Homo sapiens: one gene and its partner. The protein of the gene in region 2 interacts with the protein of the main gene of each other region in a biochemical or structural test. Each region holds a gene or a part of one and is shown on either strand. Other genes may lie near its edges.

Region 1 (3,658 bases), on a different chromosome or scaffold from region 2:
TTCAGTTTGTGGGCTCTACAAAACCTAGTTAAACCAGCAACACACATCAACCATATCTTGATGTTAGTACTAGCTTATTTGAGTGTGTTTTGTTTATTATAGTTTTTATTATTCTGAAAAAGATTTGAATCAAACATCTGCAGAATAGATCTTAAAATTTAAGTAGTATAAAACTACTGCTCCAGGACAGATGTCCTCTGGTAAGATGTATAAAGCTATAGAAAATAATTGCTAGGATCTCATGAGTGGGTAGAAATTCGAGTCTTTCACCTGTGCAAGGACTCAAATTTGGACTACTGCCATTCCAAACACTTGCATTTTCAGACAAGGTGAACACTTTCTTTAGCAAGCTGTAAAAGCAGCAATCATGTCTTCATTTCATACCACTCTCCCCACCCAGTATTTATAATTACTATTTTAAAACTGATCATAGTGTTATACAGTCATTTAAAAAAAATGTAAAATACAGAAAAACACAAAGGGAAGCAAATTATCAATAATCTTAACATCTTGCTAGGCTTTTTCCTGTACAAAAACTGTTTTTTTTTTTAATGGGACATGGTATATTAAATACTTCGTAATATGCTTTTTAACCCCATTTTCAGTGACTACATGATGTCATCATCAGTGGCTATGTGATAGTCCATCAAATAGATATGCAATAATTTATATTAAGTCAATAACAATATATGCAGTTGATCAGAATTCTAATGGACTTTCAGAATCTTCCCAGTTTTTCTCTCCTATAAACAATTTTATGAGTGACAGAGACAAATCTTTAGATGCATTTCTAAGGATAGATTCTTAAAAGTGGAATTGCTGGGTCCAGCATTAAGTACTATTCTCAAGTTTTGGATAGTTTCTGCCAAATTTTCCTCCAAGAAGTTTAAACTCTTCACCCACGAGCATCCTCTTAGTGTGAAATCCCATCACTCTTGGTTCTTCTCTGTCTGCAGGTGAAGGGAAGGCAGTGCCTTGTTTATATTTCTTTCCCACATCTGGATCTTTCACTGGTTTACTGAAAGATTTTCTGACATGAATCGAGGCTCTGGGTGCAAGGTTGAGAAACTGCTGTAGGCAAAGTGCTGTTGGTTTTGTCCAAATTTGGCTTAAAATCTTTCCCTTTGTTCCTCCAAGAAAGAACAGAGAGCCTGTTTACCGAGTTTTGGCAGAAATAGTAGGTATTAAAATGCTGCTTGCTAGACACATTCAGGACAGAGAGACAGACTGTAAATTGAAGTGTTAGTTTTTTAATTATACCATGGGGATAAAAAGTTTTTAATGTCATTAACAATAGCACACACCATTTCATTATATATGAGATAATATGGATTTGGTTTTAGCTCATAGACTGGTACCAGATGGCCTGGGTTCAAATATCCACTCTGCCATTTACTGGGTAGACTTGAGCAAGTTGCTAAACTTGCCTGTTCCTTAGTTTTCTCAGCAGTAAAATGGAGATAAGTAGAACCCATCTCTTAGAGTTACAGGAAAGAATAAATGAGTTAAGACATGTACAGCATGTGGAACATTTCTTGCCACATGGTAAGAGTTCAATTAGTGTTGGCTGTTAATACTGTTCCTTCCCCCACTACCCCCATCACTACCTTTCCATGGAGCAATGGATGAAGCACAGAAACATTTGGTCTTGGATTTGACCTTGACTTCTGTAGCTGAAATCATCTCTCCTTTGAAGTAACGGGTTGGATTAACGGGTGGTTTCTAAGATCCTTCTAGCTCAGGTTGGGTCTACTGTTTATGGTGAAATGAAGGGGACAGTGAAAAGGAAACCTTGGCAGTGACTACTGTTTACTAACTACTTCCTGCCCAGGGAGGACAGAGCTTAAGTGTGGGCCAGAGGAAACTAACCCTTTATCCCCCAATGTTTCGTTCTTTCTCCAGTGGTGTCAAAGTATGATTGCATCAGATTTTGCTGATGGCTAGTTGGCTGGCTAGATGATTGGTCCCTCAAAATTTTATTGTGTACTTTTTTCATTTTTTGGTCATTTATTAAATATTTATTGAGCACCTACAGTGATTGAACAAAACAGAGCCTTGAACAAAACAGAGAAAGTCACTCTTATGAAGATTACTTTCTAGTGGGGGAGCCAGAAAGTGAACATATTTCATAAATGTTATGAAAGGAGGTAAAAATGCAAGGACGAAGAGCAAAGCAGAGTAACCAGATAGAATGTGGCAGAAAGAGGACTACTTTTAGATGGAATGGTTAAAGACAGGGCCTCTCTGAGGAGACTGTACTGGACCCAGAGAACTGACTGAGTGAAGAAGGAATCCATATGCATATGTGAGAGAAGAACATTCAAGAACAAAGGACCAGTGAGTGCAAATACCTTGATATGGAACCAATGTGTGAGAGGGAGCAGGGAGAACAGTGAGAGGAGAAAGATGGCCAAGGGCTGTCTAAGCCAAGGCAAAAGCTTTGAATTTTTCCTAAGTGACATGGGATATGGGAAGCCATTGGAGTATTTCGAGCAGAGCAATATGACTGACTTCATTTTAAAAGACTCACGCTAGTGCTGTGTTGAGAAAAGGCTGTAGCGGGGAAGTATGAAGCAGGGAGACCAGTTAGCAGACTAGGCTGGTGACACTTAAGGTGGTAAGAAATGATCAGATTTGGGCACATTTTAAAAACCAACATCATGAGATTTGGTGACACAATGAACGTGGGATGTGAGAAAAATAGTCCACTATGATTTCAAGGGTTTTGGCTGAAGCCACTGGATTCGTGAAATTATCACTTGCTGAGATGGGAAAGAGTTTAGGGAAGGAGGAAATTTGGGGGAGAAATTGAGTATTTGATTTTAGACATAAATTTAGAGGCCTATCTCATATCCAAACGGTATGTTGAGGAGGCAGTTGAAAATGCAAGTCCAGAATTTAGGAGAGGGGATATACTTGTGAGACGAAAAAACCCTCAAATGTTAATGAAGTTTGCCTGTTGTTCTAAATAAGTAACATTTATTGATTCATTTTCTGATTGCCAAGTAGCTTACATGACTTTCTTCCAAATTCTGAAAAGTTGCCTGTAATCCAAACACCCTTGAATACTGCAGTTAACATTTTGGATGTATTTCCTTGCAGCCTTTTTTTTTTCTTCTCTCTTTCTTTCTGTGTATGTGTTTGTGTGTAAATGTGAGTTTGAGTGTGTTTTGACCAAGTTGAAATTATAACGCATTGTATATATTTTGTTTACAAGCTATCCTAGTATTTTTTTAAATGTATGAAATGTTATCAGAAAGCGTTTTCATAATGATTAGCAGTGTATTTCACGGAATGGATGAGGTTAACATATTAAACTAACTGGAGGAGGGGCTAATATAACTGTTGCCACATTGAATATATTCATACACATCTATATTTTTCTAAAAGTGGAATTACTGGGCCAAAAGTAAACTGTATAATTCTCTGAATTCTTTAAAAAAAAAAGAAAATCAGTTCACTATCCAAAAAAAGCAGGAATCAGTTCACTATCCAAAAAACGCAGGGTTCAGGCTCCTGAAAGCCTGCAAATAAAATTAAATATCTACCTGTGGTACATGGAAGACCTACTTTATGGTAGACCTACTTTATAATAGAATTTTTTTTCACTTGATGGCTGAGAAGAAATATTTCTAATTTTATTTGGTATTTCTTGCTC
Region 2 (3,658 bases):
TCACTGTTAAAAATGTTTCAGGAGCAGGTGTGTGGTTTTTTTTCTTTTTTTTCTTTTTTGAGATGGAGTCTTGCTCTCTCGCCCCGGCTGGAGTGCAGTGGCGTGATCTCGGCTCACTGCAAGCTCCGCCTCCTGGGTTCACGCCATTCTCCTGCCTCAGCCTCCCGACTAGCTGGGACTACAGGCACCCACCACCATGCCAGGGGAATTTTTTGTATTTTTAGTAGAGATGGGGTTTCACTGTGTTAGCCAGGATGATCTCGATCTCCTGACCTCGTGATCCGGCCGAGCCCACCTCAGTCTCACAAAGTGCTGTGATTACAGGCGTGAGCCACTGTGCCCAGCCTGGTGTGTGTTTTTAATTGACCAGTATTAATTAACTAGCTATTGTGACAATATGCAGATGCCCACAGAAGATAATTGCTTTGTCTTGTTGCAAATTATTATTTTTTAGAAGTAGAGATTTTGAAGAAATGTTGTATAGATAAGAGGGTTGTTAGGATTTAGAGGAAGGAGGGGGCTTGTTATTGCGTGATAAGTCGATAAAACTTTTAGCCATCTGATTATTTTTTGTCAGCTAGGTAAATTTTTAATACAGATTAATAAATCTTCTCTAGCCCAAACTTTGGCTTGAAACGTATTATCTTGAAGTCTAGTCACAGTTCCAGAAATCAAAACTGTTAGCAGATGATGTGATTGCAAGGTTTGGTTGCTTCTACTAATAAATCAGATTGCTTATTTGTCTAAGAATGTTATTGCCAAATTTGATATTGGACACTTACAATTTTACTCACCTTACATTATCAAAGTTGAAAGATGAGATCTTGCTTTTTGTGTAGACCTGATCTAGGTGATATGTCTGGAAAGAAATTAACTTTCCTTTTTCACATTAATTTGGACATATGTTTTTAAAATTAATATGACAGTCTTGTGAGAAACTGAGTATTCAGAAGGAAAGTTTTTATTAAACCATGGAAATATTTAAATATATGGAAATAAAGAGAATAATAAATCCCTATGTACACATCACCCAGCATTAACATCTATCAACACATAGTCTTGAGAAAGATAGTTTTTACTGGTTATATTTTTTGTAATCTTTCATTAGTCTAATCCTCATTAAGAGTGAATTAACACCTGTTGACACTAATACAGGATACTTTAAAAAAAATTATTTGTTACAGTTAGCTCAGGAGCAATTTGTCATTCTCCTAAAGGAGAAAATGGTCTAACGGGTAGACACACTACCTCCAGATCTTACCACTTGGTCGTGGTTCTCCTGGTTGTCACTTATTTTAGAGAGAGAGCTTGGTACCTGATCTTGAGAGCACTGGCGTCCAGTCTGTTCTGTGGCTATTTAGTAGCCCTGTGAATATAGGCAAATCACATACCTTCTCTAACCTGTAGTTTCCTCATTTGCAAAGTGAAGATGATAATGTCTATTTTCTGGTGTTTTATAAACATCAGGATTATTAATTTGCTTTATTTGTGCAGGCCTCCAGGACCCCTCATGGCTCTCGGGGGCACGTGGTTAAGAGTTGTCACTAGCTCATATGAGGTTTAGAAAAACAGACTAAAGCCACATAAGTTCTTTTATAATTCATGTTCTAAACAGGCAGTGCCATAAAGAAGTTGGAAGAACCAGAATTCCTGAGGCAGATAACTTACCACACCTGCTTTTCTTCCCTAAACCTTTTCATCTGAACATCTGTTGCAAAACCAAGTAGTCAGTTCTATGATTTTGGTGACAGGTTGTGCCTGCCATGACAATCAGTGTCTCAGGTTACTGCTCAGGAGACTGTTTCTGATTGTCACATCCTGGTGCTTGCTTTTGTGATTTTAGTACCCAAATAGAATGTATTAAGGAATTCATTAAGGAAATTGTTTTATAATGGTTTTGATGGGGGAAGGGTGTATTGTAAAATATACTGTTTTATAATGAATTGTTGGTAAATCTATTACTATGAAGATGCATGTAGCACGTGCTAGACTTCAAGAGGAATAAGTCACACACGCCAGTCTGTTTCACTGACATGTTTTGGATTCATGATTTGTTAAAGTATGTTTTCTCAAATGTGTTTTCTTTTGTGTGCATGGAAAGTGTTCAGATAAATATGGTGTATTAACTGTAAAGTTGTAATGTAACTACGCATAAAGTTGTAATGGCAGATTTTTTACACTAATTTTTAATACTTCATTTGTTAGCAGTCTTGCTTGAACAGTCTTTTTGAGCAGAACTAATACAATATTTTGATGTGCCACAGGTAAATTTTTCCATAACCTTATGGAGAGAAAGGACTTTGAGACATGGCTTGATAACATTTCTGTTACATTTCTTTCTCTGACGGACTTGCAGAAAAATGAAACTCTGGATCACCTGATTAGTCTGAGTGGGGCAGTCCAGCTCAGGCATCTCTCCAATAACCTAGAGACTCTCCTCAAGCGGGACTTCCTCAAACTCCTTCCCCTGGAGCTCAGTTTTTATTTGTTAAAATGGCTCGATCCTCAGACTTTACTCACATGCTGCCTCGTCTCTAAACAGTGGAATAAGGTGATAAGTGCCTGTACAGAGGTGTGGCAGACTGCATGTAAAAATTTGGGCTGGCAGATAGATGATTCTGTTCAGGACGCTTTGCACTGGAAGAAGGTTTATTTGAAGGCTATTTTGAGAATGAAGCAACTGGAGGACCATGAAGCCTTTGAAACCTCGTCATTAATTGGACACAGTGCCAGAGTGTATGCACTTTACTACAAAGATGGACTTCTCTGTACAGGTAAGAGATGTTGAAACTGCTTTTTGGGTTTTGTTTTGTATTTCATAGGGTGTAATCTTGAACCAGTCTTGAGCTTTGAGAATGACAAGTGTTGATTATATGAGATATGTACAGTGACTTTTTTTCTCTAATCCTGAGTGGTTCCCCCCCCTTATCCTCTTCCTTCTCTCTAGAGAACACAATCATTTTTATAAAATTTTATGAGAAAAACACTTCAGACTGTCTTTTAAACATTATGTGAATTACAAAGCTATAGATTACTTTTTCTTTGTGTTTCCTCCATGTGTAGTCCTCTGTTGCTAAATTCTGTTTCTTTTTCTGTTGGCACTGATATTTGAGGAAAAAAACAGTGGAAAAATTGGTATCTAATCCTAGCAAGTAGTTAGATCATTATGGCCAAATTACTTAACCTCTCTGTATCTTTAAAATATGGGAAAGGAGGTCGGGCGCAGTGGCTCATGCCTGTAATTCTAGCACTTTGGGAAGCCGAGGCGGGTGGATTGCCTGAGCTCAGGAGTTCGAGACCAGACTGGTCAACATGGTGAAATCCCGTCTCTACTGAAATACGAAAAAGTAGCCGGGCGTGGCGGCATGCGCCTATAATCCCAGCTACTCGGGAGGCTGAAACAGGAGAATCGCTTGAACCCGGGAGGCGGAGGTTCCAGTGAGCTGAGATGGTGCCACTGCACTCCAGCCTGGGTGACAGAGTGAGACTCCATCTCAAAATAAATATATATGTATATATGAAAGGAGATATTTCTTCCTTGCTCTGAAATCCTGTGATTCTAAGTAGAAGAAGTAGAAGTTGGAGTTTGGGCCTGGGAACAGAGAGAGCTGGATATTTTTTAACTAGGCAATTAAGTAATTTTATGAAACAATATAAT

The links. The genes of interacting proteins can lie anywhere in the genome.
Region 1: of the proteins of FBXW2 (region 2) and SKP2, one has a biochemical effect on the other in vitro, tested with the Homo sapiens proteins (one study listed by BioGRID).

The regions. Positions count from the first base shown.
Region 1 is NC_000005.10:36,172,512-36,176,169, forward strand, and holds part of SKP2 (S-phase kinase-associated protein 2), read left to right. Parts: intron 1-3,658. UniProt on the Homo sapiens protein: Substrate recognition component of a SCF (SKP1-CUL1-F-box protein) E3 ubiquitin-protein ligase complex which mediates the ubiquitination and subsequent proteasomal degradation of target proteins involved in cell cycle progression, signal transduction and transcription.
Region 2 is NC_000009.12:120,786,885-120,790,542, reverse strand, and holds part of FBXW2 (F-box/WD repeat-containing protein 2), read left to right. Parts: intron 1-2,264; coding exon of another isoform or gene 2,265-2,284; coding exon 2,285-2,774; intron 2,775-3,658. UniProt on the Homo sapiens protein: Substrate-recognition component of the SCF (SKP1-CUL1-F-box protein)-type E3 ubiquitin ligase complex.